2 linked regions of the Homo sapiens genome follow. The protein of the gene in region 1 purifies or fractionates together with the protein of each later gene. This does not show direct contact. Each region holds a gene or a part of one and is shown in the gene's direction. Other genes may lie near its edges.

Evidence for each region. Proteins that work in one complex are often made in the same cells at the same time.
Region 2: the proteins of COCH (region 1) and CARS2 purify together in Homo sapiens (affinity purification with mass spectrometry; one large-scale study listed by BioGRID and IntAct). This does not show direct contact.

Annotation. Positions count from the first base shown.
Region 1 is NC_000014.9:30,877,559-30,881,058, forward strand, and holds part of COCH (cochlin isoform b precursor), read left to right. Parts: intron 1-13; coding exon 14-170; intron 171-1,252; coding exon 1,253-1,386; intron 1,387-1,864; coding exon 1,865-1,927; intron 1,928-2,893; coding exon 2,894-2,938; intron 2,939-3,028; coding exon 3,029-3,176; intron 3,177-3,500. UniProt on the Homo sapiens protein: Plays a role in the control of cell shape and motility in the trabecular meshwork.
Region 2 is NC_000013.11:110,644,017-110,647,116, reverse strand, and holds part of CARS2 (probable cysteine--tRNA ligase, mitochondrial), read left to right. Parts: coding exon 1-16; intron 17-485; coding exon of another isoform or gene 486-756; exon of another isoform or gene 757-1,020; intron 1,021-1,026; coding exon 1,027-1,150; intron 1,151-2,510; coding exon of another isoform or gene 2,511-2,534; exon of another isoform or gene 2,535-2,633; coding exon 2,634-2,732; intron 2,733-2,934; exon of another isoform or gene 2,935-3,052; intron 3,053-3,100. UniProt on the Homo sapiens protein: Mitochondrial cysteine-specific aminoacyl-tRNA synthetase that catalyzes the ATP-dependent ligation of cysteine to tRNA(Cys). In addition to its role as an aminoacyl-tRNA synthetase, has also cysteine persulfide synthase activity.

The DNA of each region.
Region 1 (3,500 bases):
CCTTTTTCTTCAGCTCCCATTGCTATCACATGTTTTACCAGAGGCTTGGACATCAGGAAAGAGAAAGCAGATGTCCTCTGCCCAGGGGGCTGCCCTCTTGAGGAATTCTCTGTGTATGGGAACATAGTATATGCTTCTGTATCGAGCATATGTGGGGCTGCTGTCCACAGGTAAGCCCAAACACACCAGGGTGGGAGAGAAATGCAGACGTGATTATTTCCTTTCCTGCTTTACCCATCTGGATCCCTTTCCTCCCTGCATTCTTTCTTTTGTTGCCATTGTGGCCACAGAAAATGGATATATTTTCACGGTTCTCCTGGATATACTTGAAACACCAAATACACATGGAAAGCTTTCTGACAAAAGGCAAATAGCATTACCTCTTGATGGCTAGATTGCTATGATTCCAAAACATTCCTAATCATGTGATATATTACTGAGTTATTACTATGTGCCACCTATTGTTTTAACTTCCACCACAACTCTACAAGGTAGGTAGAATTTTACTCCAGTTACAGATGAAGAAACTGAACTCAGAGAGTTGTCAAGTATCTTGCCCAAGGTGACTATTGTTAGCAAGTGCCATGCTATCCTGTAGTAGAATAGCCAGTATAATACTTCTAAAAAAATTCAGTCCAAAGGCATGTAGCTAAAGTGAGTATCTTAGGAAAATTGTTTGGTGCTCTGAATTTCTAAGTTGTGGGTAATGGGATATTACAAATGTGTTCTTATCAACACTTAAGAAGTTCAACAGCACAAAACCATTTTTTTCCAGGCAAATTTTGTTCTTGTGTAAGCAAGTTTTTAAAAGGCTAGCAGCAGCTGGGAGTGGTGGCTCACACCTGTAATCCCACCACTTTGGGAGGCTGAGGCGGATGGACCACTTGAGGTCAGGAGTTCGAGACCTAGCCAACATGGTGAAACCCTGTCTCTACTAAAAATACAAAAATTAGCCAGGTATGGTGGTGCATGCCTGTAATCCCAGCTACTTGGGAGGCTGAGGCAGGAGAATCACTTGAATCCTGGAGGTGGAGGTTGCAGTGAGCCGAGATCGCGCCACTGCACTCCATCCTGGGCTACAGAGCGAGACGCCATCAAATAAATAAATAAATAAAGCAGAATCTTTAGATGACTTCCCTGATGAGCTATTTTCTTGATTAATCAAAGCAATAGATACAACATGGCACTATAAGTCAGTGGGATGCCCTGAAAAAGTGTGGATAGCATCTCAGCTGCTATTCTTGTGTTACAGGGGAGTAATCAGCAACTCAGGGGGACCTGTACGAGTCTATAGCCTACCTGGTCGAGAAAACTATTCCTCAGTAGATGCCAATGGCATCCAGTCTCAAATGCTTTCTAGATGGTCTGCTTCTTTCACAGTAACTAGTAGGTATAATTATTGTTCTCATTCTGTAATATTCTCCCACCCCCCAAACGTTTTCTGCTTTTTTTAGCTCAGCCTCTTTAACCTTGATGGAAAAACCTGTGATCAAGACTAAAGCTGACCTATAGAGGTAAACTGTAGGTTAGACTGAGGGGTCAAGTACCCACTGAAGCCAAATTTGGGTGAATAGAAGACAATCTTACTGACAGATGATGGCAATAGAAACTTGAATTATTTGCAGTCAGAATGCCCGGACACTTACCAAGGAACTGAAAAACTACTAAATACATTTTTGATGATCCTTTGAAGATATAATGGATAAGCATTTTGGTTCTCTGAAACTAGCATGCAGCAGGATGTTTGTAACTACAATCACCATTACCCTATTACATTTGTCATTGTAGAGAGCTCTAAATTAGATTCATAATACTTTGGTAAAGAAGGAAAAGGAAAAAAATAAGCTTATTTTTATTTTAACAGAAGGCAAAAGTAGTACACAGGAGGCCACAGGACAAGCAGTGTCCACAGCACATCCACCAACAGGTATGAACTATGAAACCTATCTCCTAGTTGCCCGGCACAGCATTTGGAAGTTATGAATAAACGTGTTGTTGGTAGAAGCTTTTCTTAAAGAAATTTGATATTAAAGAGAAACAAAGCAAATACCTTAAGTTTACTGGTATATTACATATGGAAACATTCATTATGTGTATATTTTAAAGACAGGGTCTCACTCTGTTGCTCAGGCTGGAGTACAGTGGTGCAATCATAGCTCACTGCAGCCTTAACCTCCTAGGCTCAAGCAATCTTCTCACCTTGGCCTCCTGAGTAGGTGGTACTACAGGCACATGCCACCACACCCAGCCAATTTTTTTGATTTTTAATTTTTTTTATTTTTATTTTTTTAGACAGGTCTAGCTATGATGCCCAGGCTGGTTTTGAACTCCTGACCTCAGGCAGTCCTCCCACTTCAGCCTCCCAAAGTTCAGGGATTACAGGCATGAGCCACTGCACCCAGCCTAATAATTCTCTAAAAGTCCTATTTTCTCCCAGATTTGATAAACCACGCCTAAGAACTGGTCAAAGTACCATGAACTTCTAGTTCCATTTGCTTCATTAAATTCCTTTAATTACTGCACTGTCATGTGACTAAAAGGAATGTGTGTCTATTGTAAGAAATAGCCAGGGATCCCCTTTTGTATGACGATGGCAGTTTTAAAGTCAAAGATATTAAGAACATTAGGATTTAATGTTGAGTTCCTGCCTCACCTGTGGGTTTGGGGTATTAAAGTCCTGGATTAGGGCATATCAAATATGTAGGCCTACATACTGATTTGTTTATTTGTTGGGTCATTGCTTTCCCTAGTCCAGAAAATCCTGAGGAAATTAATTTTTTTAAAAAAGTCCTTTCAAGAATGGCACTCTGTTGTTATGAGCTTCTCCCCATGTGGGTTTCTTGCTATGTAACTGTCTTCCTTTTGTTAATGCCAAGTGCATCTTTTATTTCAGGTAAACGACTAAAGAAAACACCCGAGAAGAAAACTGGCAATAAAGGTAAGAATCAAGATCTCCATTTGGGAAGGTAGCATTTTCCCTCCCTCCTCTTGAGACTGCTAATGAGGGGACTGGTTTGGTTGTTCGCAGATTGTAAAGCAGACATTGCATTTCTGATTGATGGAAGCTTTAATATTGGGCAGCGCCGATTTAATTTACAGAAGAATTTTGTTGGAAAAGTGGCTCTAATGTTGGGAATTGGAACAGAAGGACCACATGTGGGCCTTGTTCAAGCCAGGTACCAACCTTGTTAAAATGGGAGATTTAAAAAAAAAATTATTTTGTAATTGACACATAATAATTATATATACTTATGGGGTACATAGTGATGTTTTCATACATACAATGTATAGTGGTCAAATCAGAGTAATTAGCATATCCATCACCTCAAACATTGATCATTTCTTTGTGTTGGATACATTCAAAATCAAATGAGGCCGGGTGCAGTGGCTCACGCCTGTAATTCCAGCACTTTGGAGGCCAAGTGGGTGTGTGGATCACCTGAGGTCAGGAGTTCAAAACCAGTCTGGCCAACATGTGAAACACCGTCTCTACTAAAAAT
Region 2 (3,100 bases), on another chromosome or scaffold:
CGATGCTGTGGGAGAGGTAAGAGGCCCGCCTAGCACCCGGCGTGGCACCCCTCCTGTGGCCTGCTGGGTGCTGCTGGTGGGCTCTTGAAGGGGAAGAGGGGCCCCCAGGAGACAGGGCGCTGGACAGGAGGTTTGGGGTCAGGGACTGCCCAGAGAGGCCCCAGGAGACAGGGTGCTGGGCAGGAGGTGCAGGTGTGGGGTCAGGGGCTCCCCAGAGGCCACAGGGGACTGGGAGCTGGACAGGAGGTGTGGGGTCAGGGGCTCCCCAGAGGCCACAGGACACTGGGTGCTGGACAGGAGGTGTGGGGTCAGGGGCTCCCGAGACATCCCAGGGAGACGGCGCTGGCAGGAAGTGTGCCTGGGGCCCTCGGGCTCTGAGCCCCCTGCTCAGAGTGGCTTTGGGCTCGGGTTCCCTGTGCGAGGAGCGGAGCTGCTCATCCCTCCCAGTCCTGACTGTGAGGAGCCAAAATCTATAAAACACACAGGCCTGGGCCCACAGCATCGCCTCCACTCCCCACCCACGGGTGTCCTGGGCAGCGCTGCACATTCATCCCGGCATGCAGAGTCTTCCGGATGGTCTTGGTGATAACCCACCCCTGCCACTTCAGCAGGGTAGGCAGCCAGTGGCCACGGGAGGCTGAGATCCGGGAGCCCCGGGCTGGGCCTCCCCAGCCTCTCTTTGTGAGTGGTCAGCCGTGCCGTCTCTCCCCCACCGAGTCTTCCTTGCCACTCCCCTCAATATCTATTGATTTTTAAAACCATCATGAAAATGCCCACGTGTGTCTTGTATTTTAAGTGTCACAGGTGACCTCTGCTCTGGGACTTTTTCTTGGGGTAACATGACAGTTTGCAGTTGATGTTACATAATTTTCTGCTACTCAGGAACTCAAGTCTTTGGGAATATGACCTAGAGAAAGTCCCCAGATTAGAGCCCCCAGCGTCTCTCCCTGGGGAAGGACTGGTGTGGGGGCCGCCTGGGGAGAGTGGAGCTCCCTCTGCTGTGACTGTTCTCTCCTCTTCCCTCAGGCTCTCCAGCACCAAGAGGGCCGTGAAGGCGGCCTTGGCAGATGATTTTGACACACCCAGGGTGGTTGATGCCATCCTGGGCCTTGCACACCACGGGAATGGACAGCTCAGGGCGTCCCTGAAGGTAGCTCAACGAACAGGTGGCCTTGCGGTCCTGCTGCCAGGGGCATGGGTCGGGTCCTCTGGTGGGTTTTTCTCATGTCGGCTGGGTGGCATCTCTGCTGATTTCGCCTCCCGCAGCTTCTGTGGAGGAACTCATGGAGCCCGAGTCTGCCGCTGACACACGGGATGGCACCCAGCCTGGGGCTTGACCCTCCCGGGCCTCAGGGCCACCTGGGGAACAAGCTCTCAGGAGCCCCTGAGGCTGAGAAATTCTGTGTGCTTGATCCTCAGGGGACACATCTCATGTCCCCACTGCATTCATGGCCCTTTCACAGAGAGAGCTTTTGTGGGGAACTTTTTAAGGAAAGACCCATTTACCCCAAGGCACTGTTATGCAATCTGCACCCCAGTGTGATGACCACACCAAGCACCCAGGGGTCTGAGCCTGGACTCGTGGGTCACTGCAAGTGTTTGGCAGGTGGGACAAAGACCGTGAAGGCGGCGGCAGGCTTTGGTTCCTGCACGTCTGAGGGTCCCCTGCCAGGCCCTGGGAGGCGCTGCGTCAGGAGCCCCGTGACCTTTGATGACCCGGGAAGCCGAGGCTGTTTGTGCCTCTCCCACCTCTGGAAACACCTGGGGGTTCTGGCCACATGCTCTGTTAGTTGAGCATCTCTGTGGAGGTCTCCATCCCTGGCTGCGTGCAGTGTTGGGTTTCAGAGCACCAGCAGGTGGGGCAGGGTGCCATGTGCCCTTGCCGGGTGCCTTCGGTCCAAATACTGCAGACGCGCAGGGCTCGCCTCTGAGGGGGGCGGGCATTTGAGTCACAGCCGGCTGCAGGAACAGGCTGCCCCGCACTGAAGGCAGCCAGGCCGGGCTGGGGCAGGTCCCGCAGCCAGGCTGCTCCTGCACGGGAGCTCCTCCTCCTCAGCCCGTCCGCGGCCTCCTGCCTTCACCGCAGCTGCTGCCGGCACTACCAGGCTGGCCCAGCTCTAGGGCAACAGGGGCCTCTTGTGGCAAGGGGCGGGACAAGTAAAGAGGCTGGCTTTTGTCCTGCGCTTTTCCTTCCCAAGCTTTGCAATTCTGGGGCACCTGCAAACTAAGGCTAGTGTCACCCAAGGGTCTCTGTGCTTGGTAACTGATGTGAGCCACGTACCAGGATTTCCCCGTTTTCTGAGAAACCCAGCCCAGTGCCCACTCAGCCTCCACCTACCATGCGCCACCTGCCATACTCCACGGTCATGCTTCACCCGCGAAGCCTGATGAGCTAGTCACCACCCACATGACTGATGGGTAAACTGAGGCACAAGAGATTCCTCATGCACCTATAGTTGTATGGTCTGCAGTGAGGTAGCCGATGCCAGAGCTGTGTCCTCCCTCCATAGAAGCCAGGAGAAAGGCCAGACTGAAGTGACCTGCTGAAGCCTTTGTCTTTTGACATTGAATTCCGTTTGCCCACTGCCATCAAGACTGCTTTTAAGGAGCTTCTGCGACATGATCTCTTACAGGAACCTGAAGGGCCGAGAAGTCCTGCTGTGTTTGGTGCCATCATCTCTTACTTTGAACAGTTTTTTGAAACTGTTGGAATTTCTCTGGCAAATCAACAGGTAGGTCCTATTATTTTAAATGCTTAATTCTGGAATTTTCTCCATGTTGGGACAATAACCTTTACCCTTTTAACTTGGAATAGAGCATTATGATGCCACACTAATGTATTTACCTGTTTAAAAACATGTTACTTTCCTGGAAAAATAAACACACTCAGAGCCAATACTTATTAATTGGAATTGCACAATTCTACTTCTGCAGTTGGCAAACTCTCGTGCGCAGAACCAGAGATGAGTCCATCTCAGCAACAGAATGTCGCCAGCTCTGCACACACGTTTATGTTCAAAGACTCTCAGAATGTGCAGAAGTCACAGGCACAGTAAGAGAACATTTTTTCCTGACCCATTTGAGGGCAAGTTGGCGACCT